2 linked regions of the Homo sapiens genome follow. The protein of the gene in region 2 interacts with the protein of the main gene of each other region in a pairwise test. Each region holds a gene or a part of one and is shown on either strand. Other genes may lie near its edges. The genes, in order: ICAM1 and PELO.

Region 1 (3,922 bases), on a different chromosome or scaffold from region 2:
CCACGTGCCTAGCCTGCCCAGTGCTCTTCTGTTTTTTCTTCTTTGATTTTGTTTTGTTTTCATTTGAATTCCTTATTTTGGCCTTGATAACTCTTTCCCACCATTCGAAGTCCCCAAAGTAGGAAGGACGCAAAGAGAAATTCTCGGCTGGGGGCAGTGGCTCACGCCTGTAATCCCAGCACTTTGGGAGGCCGAGGCGGGCAGATCACAAGGTCAGGAGATCAAGACCAGCCTGGCCAACATGATGAAATCCCGTCTCTACTAAAAATACAAAAATTAGCCGGGCGTGGTGCTGGGCGCCTGTAATTCCAGCTACTTGGGAGGCTGAGGCAGGAGAATTGCTTGAACCCGGGAGGGAGAGGTTGCAGTGAGCTGAGATTACACCATTGCACTCCAGGCTGGGGACACAGCAAAACTCCATCTCAAAAAGACAACAACAAAAAAAGAATTCTCAGCCAGGCAAAGTGGCTCACGTTGTAATCCCAGCACTTTGGGAGGCCGAGGCGGGCGGATCACCTGAGGTCAGAGTTCAAGACCAGCCTGACCAACATGGAGAAACCCTGTCTCTACTAAAAATACAAAATTTGCCAGGCGTAGTGGCCCATGCCTGTAATCCCAGCTAGTCGGGAGGCTGAGGCCGGAGAATCACTTAAACTCAGGAGGTGAAGGTTGCGGTGAGCTGAGATCGTGCCATTGCACTCCAGCCTGGGCAACAAGAGTGAAACTCTGTCTCAAAAAAAGGAAAAAACAAAAAGAATTCTCCACACCCAAGCCCTCTCCCACAGCCTCCCAGCCTCTCTTCTCATAGCCAGCTAATATTGTCATTTCTCCCACTTCCTTTTAGGGCTATTTTATACATAAATACAGCCTCCCCGAAACTGCCCTTCCCTAATGTGAGGGTGGCATACCACTCATATTCAACATACCTTCTTTTATTTCTTTTTTTTTTTTTTTTGAGATGGAGTTTTGCTCTTGTTGCCCAAGCTGGAGTGCAGTGGCGCAATCTCAGCTCACCGCAACCTCTGCCTCCCAGTTTCAAGAGATTCTCCTGCCTCAGCCTCCCGAGTAGCTGGGATTACAGGTATGTGCCACTATGCCTGGCTAGTTTTTTTTGTATTTTTAATAGAGACGGGGTTTCTCCATGGTGGTCAGGCTGGTCTCGAACTCCTGACCTCAAGTGATCCGCCTCCCTCAGCCTCCCAAAGTGCTGGGATTACAGGCGTGAGCCACCGTGCCCAGCCCATGACATTTTGAGAACTGATGCCCAATTTCCCGCCACAGGGTTGGGCTTATTTATGCTCCCAACAGCACTGTCCTAGGACCTCCTACGTTCCAATAGCCTTGGCAGCACAGCTGTTATCAATTCTTTTTTTTTTTTTTTTTTTTGAGATGGAGTCTTGCTCTGTCGCCCAGGCTGGAGTGCAGTGGCACGATCTTGGCTCACTGCAAGCTCTGCCTCCCGGGTTCATGCCATTCTCCTGCCTCAGCCTCCTGAGTAGCTGGGACCACAGGCGCCTGCCACCATGCCCGGCTAATTTTTTGTAGTTTTAGTAGAGACGGGGTTTCACCATGTTAGCCAGGATGGTCTCGATCTCCTGACCTTGTGATCCGCCCGCCTCGGCCTCCCAAAGTGCTGGGATTACAGGCGTGAGCCACTGCGCCCGGCCATCAATTCTTTTGTTTGTTACCAATATGTGAAAAATGCCATCCCAGGGCTAGTTTTAACTCATATCTTTTTTTTTTTTTTTAAATAAAAATGGGGTTTTGCTATGTTGCCTAGGATGGATTCGAACTCCTAGGATTCGAACCCCTGGGTTAAAGCAATCCTCCCATCACAGCCTCAGGAGCAGCTGGGATTACAGGTGCACACCACGATGCCCAGCTAAATTATTTACTTTTTTTTTCCGGTAGAAACAGGGTCTTGGATGGGCACAGTGGCTTACACCTGTAATCCCAGCACTTTGGGAGGCCGAGGCGGGCGGACCACTAGGTCAGGAGATTGAGACCATCCTGGCTAACACAGTGAAACCCCGTCTCTACTAAAAATACAAAAAAATGAGCCGGGCATGGTGGCAGGCGCCTGTAGTCCCAGCTACTCGGGAGGCTGAGGCAGGAGAATGGCGTGAACCCGGGAGGCGGAGCTTGCAGTGAGCCGAGATCACACCACTGCACTCCAGCCTGGGCGACAGAGTGAGACTCCGTCTCAAAAAAAAAAAAAAAAAAAAGAAAGAAACAGGGTCTCACTCTGTTGCCCAGGCTGGTCTCAAACTCCTGGGCTCAAACCATCCTTCTGCCTCAGCCTCTGGAGTAGTTGGGATTATAGGTACAAGCCACCACACTTGGCTTAATTTGCATCTTTTATTAAAGTGTCTGAAGCAGGACCGTGTCATATGTTCAAAGAGTGAGGCATAGAGAGATGGCATTTTTTTTTTCTTGAGATGGAATCTTGCTCTGTTATCCAGACTGGAGTGCACTGGCACGATCGCGGCTCACTGCAATCTCTGCCTCTCAGGTTCAAGCGTTCTCCTGCCTCAGCCTTCCAAGTAGCTGGGATTACAGGCGCTTGACACCATGCCCGGCTGATTTTTGTATTTTCAGCAGAGACAGGGTTTCGCCATGTTGGCGAAACTTAAACTCCTGATCTCAGGTGATCCGCCAGCCTCAGCCTCTCAAAGTGCTGGGATTACAGGCATGAGCCACCGCACCCAGCCTGTAAATACTTTAATTGTACCCAAAGAAATTCACAAAGGGACTTTCCAAGGATGTCCCCACCTGCCCTGCAAGGAGCCCCTCCTTGACCCTACGAGCAAGTGGCAAAGATTCCCCCAGGCCTCTGCAGGTGCCCCTGCACGTCTCTCCCACCGGGTCTGCCTAGTCCAGCCCTCCGGGCTCAGTTACTCACAGTACACGGTGAGGAAGGTTTTAGCTGTTGACTGCCCATCAGGGCAGTTTGAATAGCACATTGGTTGGCTATCTTCTTGCACATTGCTCAGTTCATACACCTTCCGGTTGTTCCCAGGCAGGAGCAACTCCTTTTTAGGCAACGGGGTCTCTATGCCCAACAACTTGGGCTGGTCACAGGAGGTGCTGCATGTCACCAGCACGGAGCCTCCCCGGGGCAGGATGACTTTTGAGGGGGACACAGATGTCTGGGCATTGCCAGGTCCTAGAAGAAACGAGGGAAGAGGCGACAGGCATTACAAATCAGGTTCATCAAGGGAATGTGCGCCCAGCCTGTGCTGGGTGCTGGAGGCACAGCCTTAACAAGACAATACTTTGCCTTCGATGTGGAAGTTAAAGAGAAAATTCATGAGCAGGCCGGGTGTGGTGGCTCACGCCTGTAATCCCAGCACTTTGGGAGGCCAAGGCGGGCAGATCACTTGAGGTCAGGAATTTGAGATCAGCCTGGCCAACATGACAAAGCCCCGTCTCCACTAAAAATACAAAAATTAGCTGGGCATGGTGGGACGTGCCTGTAGTCCTAGCTATTTGGGAGGCTGAGGCACAAGAATCACTTGAACCTGGGAGGTGGAGGTTACAGTGAGCCAAGATTGTGCCACTGCACTCCAGCCTGAGCAACAGAACGAGACTCTGTCTCCAAAAAAAAAAAAAAAAAAATTATGAGCAAACAAGATAATTAATAACTGATGTTAATATGAGCTTTGACAAAAACAAAACAGGGTGATAGAATAGACAGTGCTTTGGTGACAGGGTAATGTTTCAGCAGAGATCTAAATGACGAGAAAGGGCTGGCTGTCCGGAGAAAAGGGAAATAAGTTCCAGGCAAGTACAGATGTCCCGGGGCAGGGTGGCTGGAGCTGAGTGAGCAAGGATGAAGAGGGGGAGATTAATTCAGGAAGATCCCGTGAGCACTGAAGGCCATGCTAAAGATGTGTTCTTTTATTTTTTTTTTTTTTGAGAT
Region 2 (3,922 bases):
TATCTAGTGATAAACGCAATTGTTTATTTAGAGAGAATGTGCAAACCTCAGATTGTGCAAAGGTTCCCATGTGACCTCCACCAGCAAAGCTAAGTGGATGACTGGGAGGATTAGTTAGCTAATATAGACAAAAGGGTAAAAGGGAAAGTGGTTTTTTTTGTTTGTTTTATTTGTTTTTTTTTTTAAGGAACTTGTACTCACTCACTATCTAAATTTCTCATGATGGAAAGTGCTTACTTGCAGTTGTCACAAAATAATACAAAACCTCCTACCAAATAAACAAAATCCTATGAACAGAAGTGTGTGTGTGTGTGTGTGTGTGTGTGTGTGTGTGTATTTCTATTTGCATGTATTCTTATACGGCATAAGATCATTTCACCAAAAATATTATAAGTAAAATGTGTTACACAGATATTTTTAAGGATTGGCCAGTACCCATGTATTTCTAGACTTTAGTATTTGGTAAAATAAAAGTCTAATTAATAAAATAATTTTGAAAGTACATTTAATTTGTAGTAAGGATATATGATTTGTAACAAAATATATAAACCATCTTAACTATTGATGTTTTAAAGTGACTTAGGTGCTATATTTAAATTTAAGAATTTGCATTTATTTTAGGAGATCTCATATAATTCATACAAAAAGAGTATGTGTATCCACTCCTTTGCATATTTGAATTACAATGATTTCTCATTTCAGATCTCTTACTTATCTTGTTAATAGGGATCTCCTGTTTGGATAAAATTGATTTTTTTTAACACATAAAGTGAATTCCTAACACCAACCAGCATATGCATTTTAATTTCCTTTTAAAACTTAGTTGACTTTTTTATCTTCCTTTTAAATCATAGGAAAGTTTTGATTAAAATTAGTCTTCTTCCTATATACACAACCCTGGAGCTTACCACCAACATGACAAAAAGTTAAGAGTTTGCCAAAGCTAGAGTCATTAATCCTGTGCAACTGGAACATTATATGATTACTTTATTGTCACCTTTCTCCTGAAGCTCTCTTCTAAAGATAGAGCATTTGGAGGGAGCTCTGTTTTTGGGATCTGGTGAGGCTGTTGGTGCCAGAGGAGCAATTATCCCCTAAATCAGATATAAACTTGGCACTTGAAGAGAACTGAGAGGAACAATGTTATATCTCTGTATCTAGATGGGGTTCACATACTAGCCTCTTCAAAATCTTATGACACAATTTTTAAGTGTCCAAACAAATAGAAAAGTACCATGGTAAAAAGTACCATACACTGTATATTATTGATTGTAATTTTCAGACGCACATTTTCCCAATTTTGACATCTCTGAAACTAGGAACTATCTAACAATCTAGCAATTATAATTGGATTGGGAGTGGCTTGTCTTTTTTAGTGGTACATAAAATAATGGTGCATCTTTCAACTGATGGTGTCTTCCATTCCATTATTTATAAATTTGGATAGACAGAAATATTTCAGGCAGAGGTATAATAAAATAAGGCAGAGGTATATAATAAAGGGACAATCTGATCCCTTAAGTATTTTCTGAGTTTGTCAATAGTCAATTCTTTTGCGATTCATTCAATTAAAAAGTGCCTATTATTTCTAGGTGTTATGGTTAAAGATCCTACCCTCACAGAGCATACAGCAAGCTGGAAAGACAGGCAATTAGATAGTTAATTATAATACCGTGGTGCATTATATAATAGAAGCAAAGGTGCTGGGATACACATGTCCTAAGGTAGGGTCCAATCTACTTCAGGGTATCTCTTGGAAATGACGTTTATTCAGGGATTGAGATCAGTAGCAGTGGGAGTAACTACTTATGCAAAGTCCCCAAGGAGACTTTAGAGTAGCTGGCATAATAAAGGAGCTGAAAGAAGCTCAATAATCTTGAAGATAGAAATATATGCAGTCATTTGCATCTCTTGATACTCTACTGTACTTGCTTTGAGGGCGAATACAATTCTCCAGTCACAGACTGCTCTGAATAGGCAATCTATTCTGACTTTAGCACTGTGGCAACAGTTTCAAAATATCTTTCATCTCAGTTTCTTAACATGAATTTGAGTACACTATTTTGTATTTCACACAACAGAAGAGAAGTGTAGGTAAAGAATAGCATTTTAGTCCCCAACTTTTCTAAATATATTTTAAACATGAGCTACTTTATTCTACTAAAATATGTTAAGATGTGGAAATTCAGCAAGTTCTAAATCTAGTGGGAAGTTTATTGGGTTGGAAGTGGAGGAACATGTTAGAGGAGCATCTATCTACTGAAGTCAGAACATCAGTGATAAGCTGTGGCCCAAGAGCTCATGCTTCAAAATAGCTGGGTAAGTGTTATGACAGGAGGGAAGAGAAATAGTTAAACTAGTATAGCATATATATGTGTCTCATGGTTACTCTCATTGCCTGTTTACTAAACAAACAAAAATCCCGTGAATTCATTGCTGCCTTTACAAACATCACAATGAGTAAGACAATTTTCACCATCTTCAGCAATTCCTGACAATACATTGTCTGCCATTGGGAGTCATTCTTTGTTTTGAATAAGTGGCTGACTTCCTCCCCATATTCAGCCATCTCCCATCTCCTCACTGGATTTCATTTTGAATAGGAAATCTTGCCTGTGAAAAGAAGACCCTTGCTTCTAGGCCAACCAAAATGTTTCTAGGGAAGAGAGACATATAGTTTAATTAGGGCTAATTCTATATTTATATTCTTAATAACGAGAAATAGTAGTCTTACTTGAGTTACACTTAATGCTGTACACCTAAAAATCATGGAAATAAAAGATTGACTTGTATCATTAATTAGGTCTTTATCCAAGTATTTTAGACAACTATGTTTGGATTTCACATTTAGAGGAGTGAGCAAGAGAGAATGAACTTATCTTTAGGCAGCCAATATAGCATATTATTTTAGAGCATTTAATTTGAGGTCAGAGATATGAATTGAGTAGATTTGTCATTAGTTCTTCAACTTTGGACAAATGAAATTAACTTCTTAATACTATATTTTGATTTCCTCATCTCTAAAATATTGATAATAGTTATAAAGTTTTAATTTTTTCTTTTCTTTTTTTCAAGGCTAATCAACAAGCTGAGGGAGTGAAAAAAGAACAAAGAAATCTGTGACTGCTTGTGATCAATTAGTAAACTTAATTTTTTAGATTAAAATGAAATAATACATGCAAAGCCCTTGGCACAGTGCCTTGCACATAATACATTTCGGGGTTAAGTTGTGCTAGCTATTCTGTTATTGATTGTCTTGCCCTTTGTTCTCTGGAAGGTTGGATCTTGCCATTTGGGGATGGCCAATGGGAAGGCTGAGCAAGACATCAGAGGGTGGGAGGAAAGGAGGTATATTTATTTTCCTTACTCCTTCTCTGCTGGGCTTCAATTTTGTCACTAGCTGCATTCCTTTTTATGACCACAACTCCAGTCTAATGGCCACCCTCCCATAACTAGAGTTCATAATCAAACTAACACTGCCACCTCCTCAGGCCTAGGAATGGTCATGGTTTTTCTTCTCACCTTGCTTCAGGTTCTTTTTTCCCTACTGTTGCTTGCGCTAGATGCTCCACCCTCTTTTCTTGTTCCTTTAAGGCCTCTCTAAACTGTCACTTTATGAAACTGTCTTCAGTTAAATCCTTTATATGTGACATCAGTTTATGCTGAGACTTTGACATACATAAAATAACAATCCTTTGGACATAAGGACATCTTTTTGATGAATCATTTTAGTAAACGTTGTAAGGAGCTAATATAAGACAGTCTAAATCAAATAGGAAGTTTATTGGGATGCTGGTGGCTTGTTGTTCTGATGTAAACCCAGTTTGGAAGGCTGTAGAGAGTTTATTTAGATGTCAGAGGGTGGTAGGATGGAAAGGTGGAATTCTTTTCTCGATGTATAAAACAAGGTCATATCTTCAGT

The links.
Region 1: the proteins of PELO (region 2) and ICAM1 interact in binary tests that used the Homo sapiens proteins (3 or more experiments, as listed by UniProt).

What each region holds. Positions count from the first base shown.
Region 1 is NC_000019.10:10,274,009-10,277,930, reverse strand, and holds part of ICAM1 (intercellular adhesion molecule 1 precursor), read right to left. Parts: intron 3,167-3,922; coding exon 2,903-3,166; intron 1-2,902. UniProt on the Homo sapiens protein: ICAM proteins are ligands for the leukocyte adhesion protein LFA-1 (integrin alpha-L/beta-2).
Region 2 is NC_000005.10:52,790,914-52,794,835, reverse strand, and holds part of PELO (protein pelota homolog), read right to left. Parts: intron 1-3,922. UniProt on the Homo sapiens protein: Component of the Pelota-HBS1L complex, a complex that recognizes stalled ribosomes and triggers the No-Go Decay (NGD) pathway.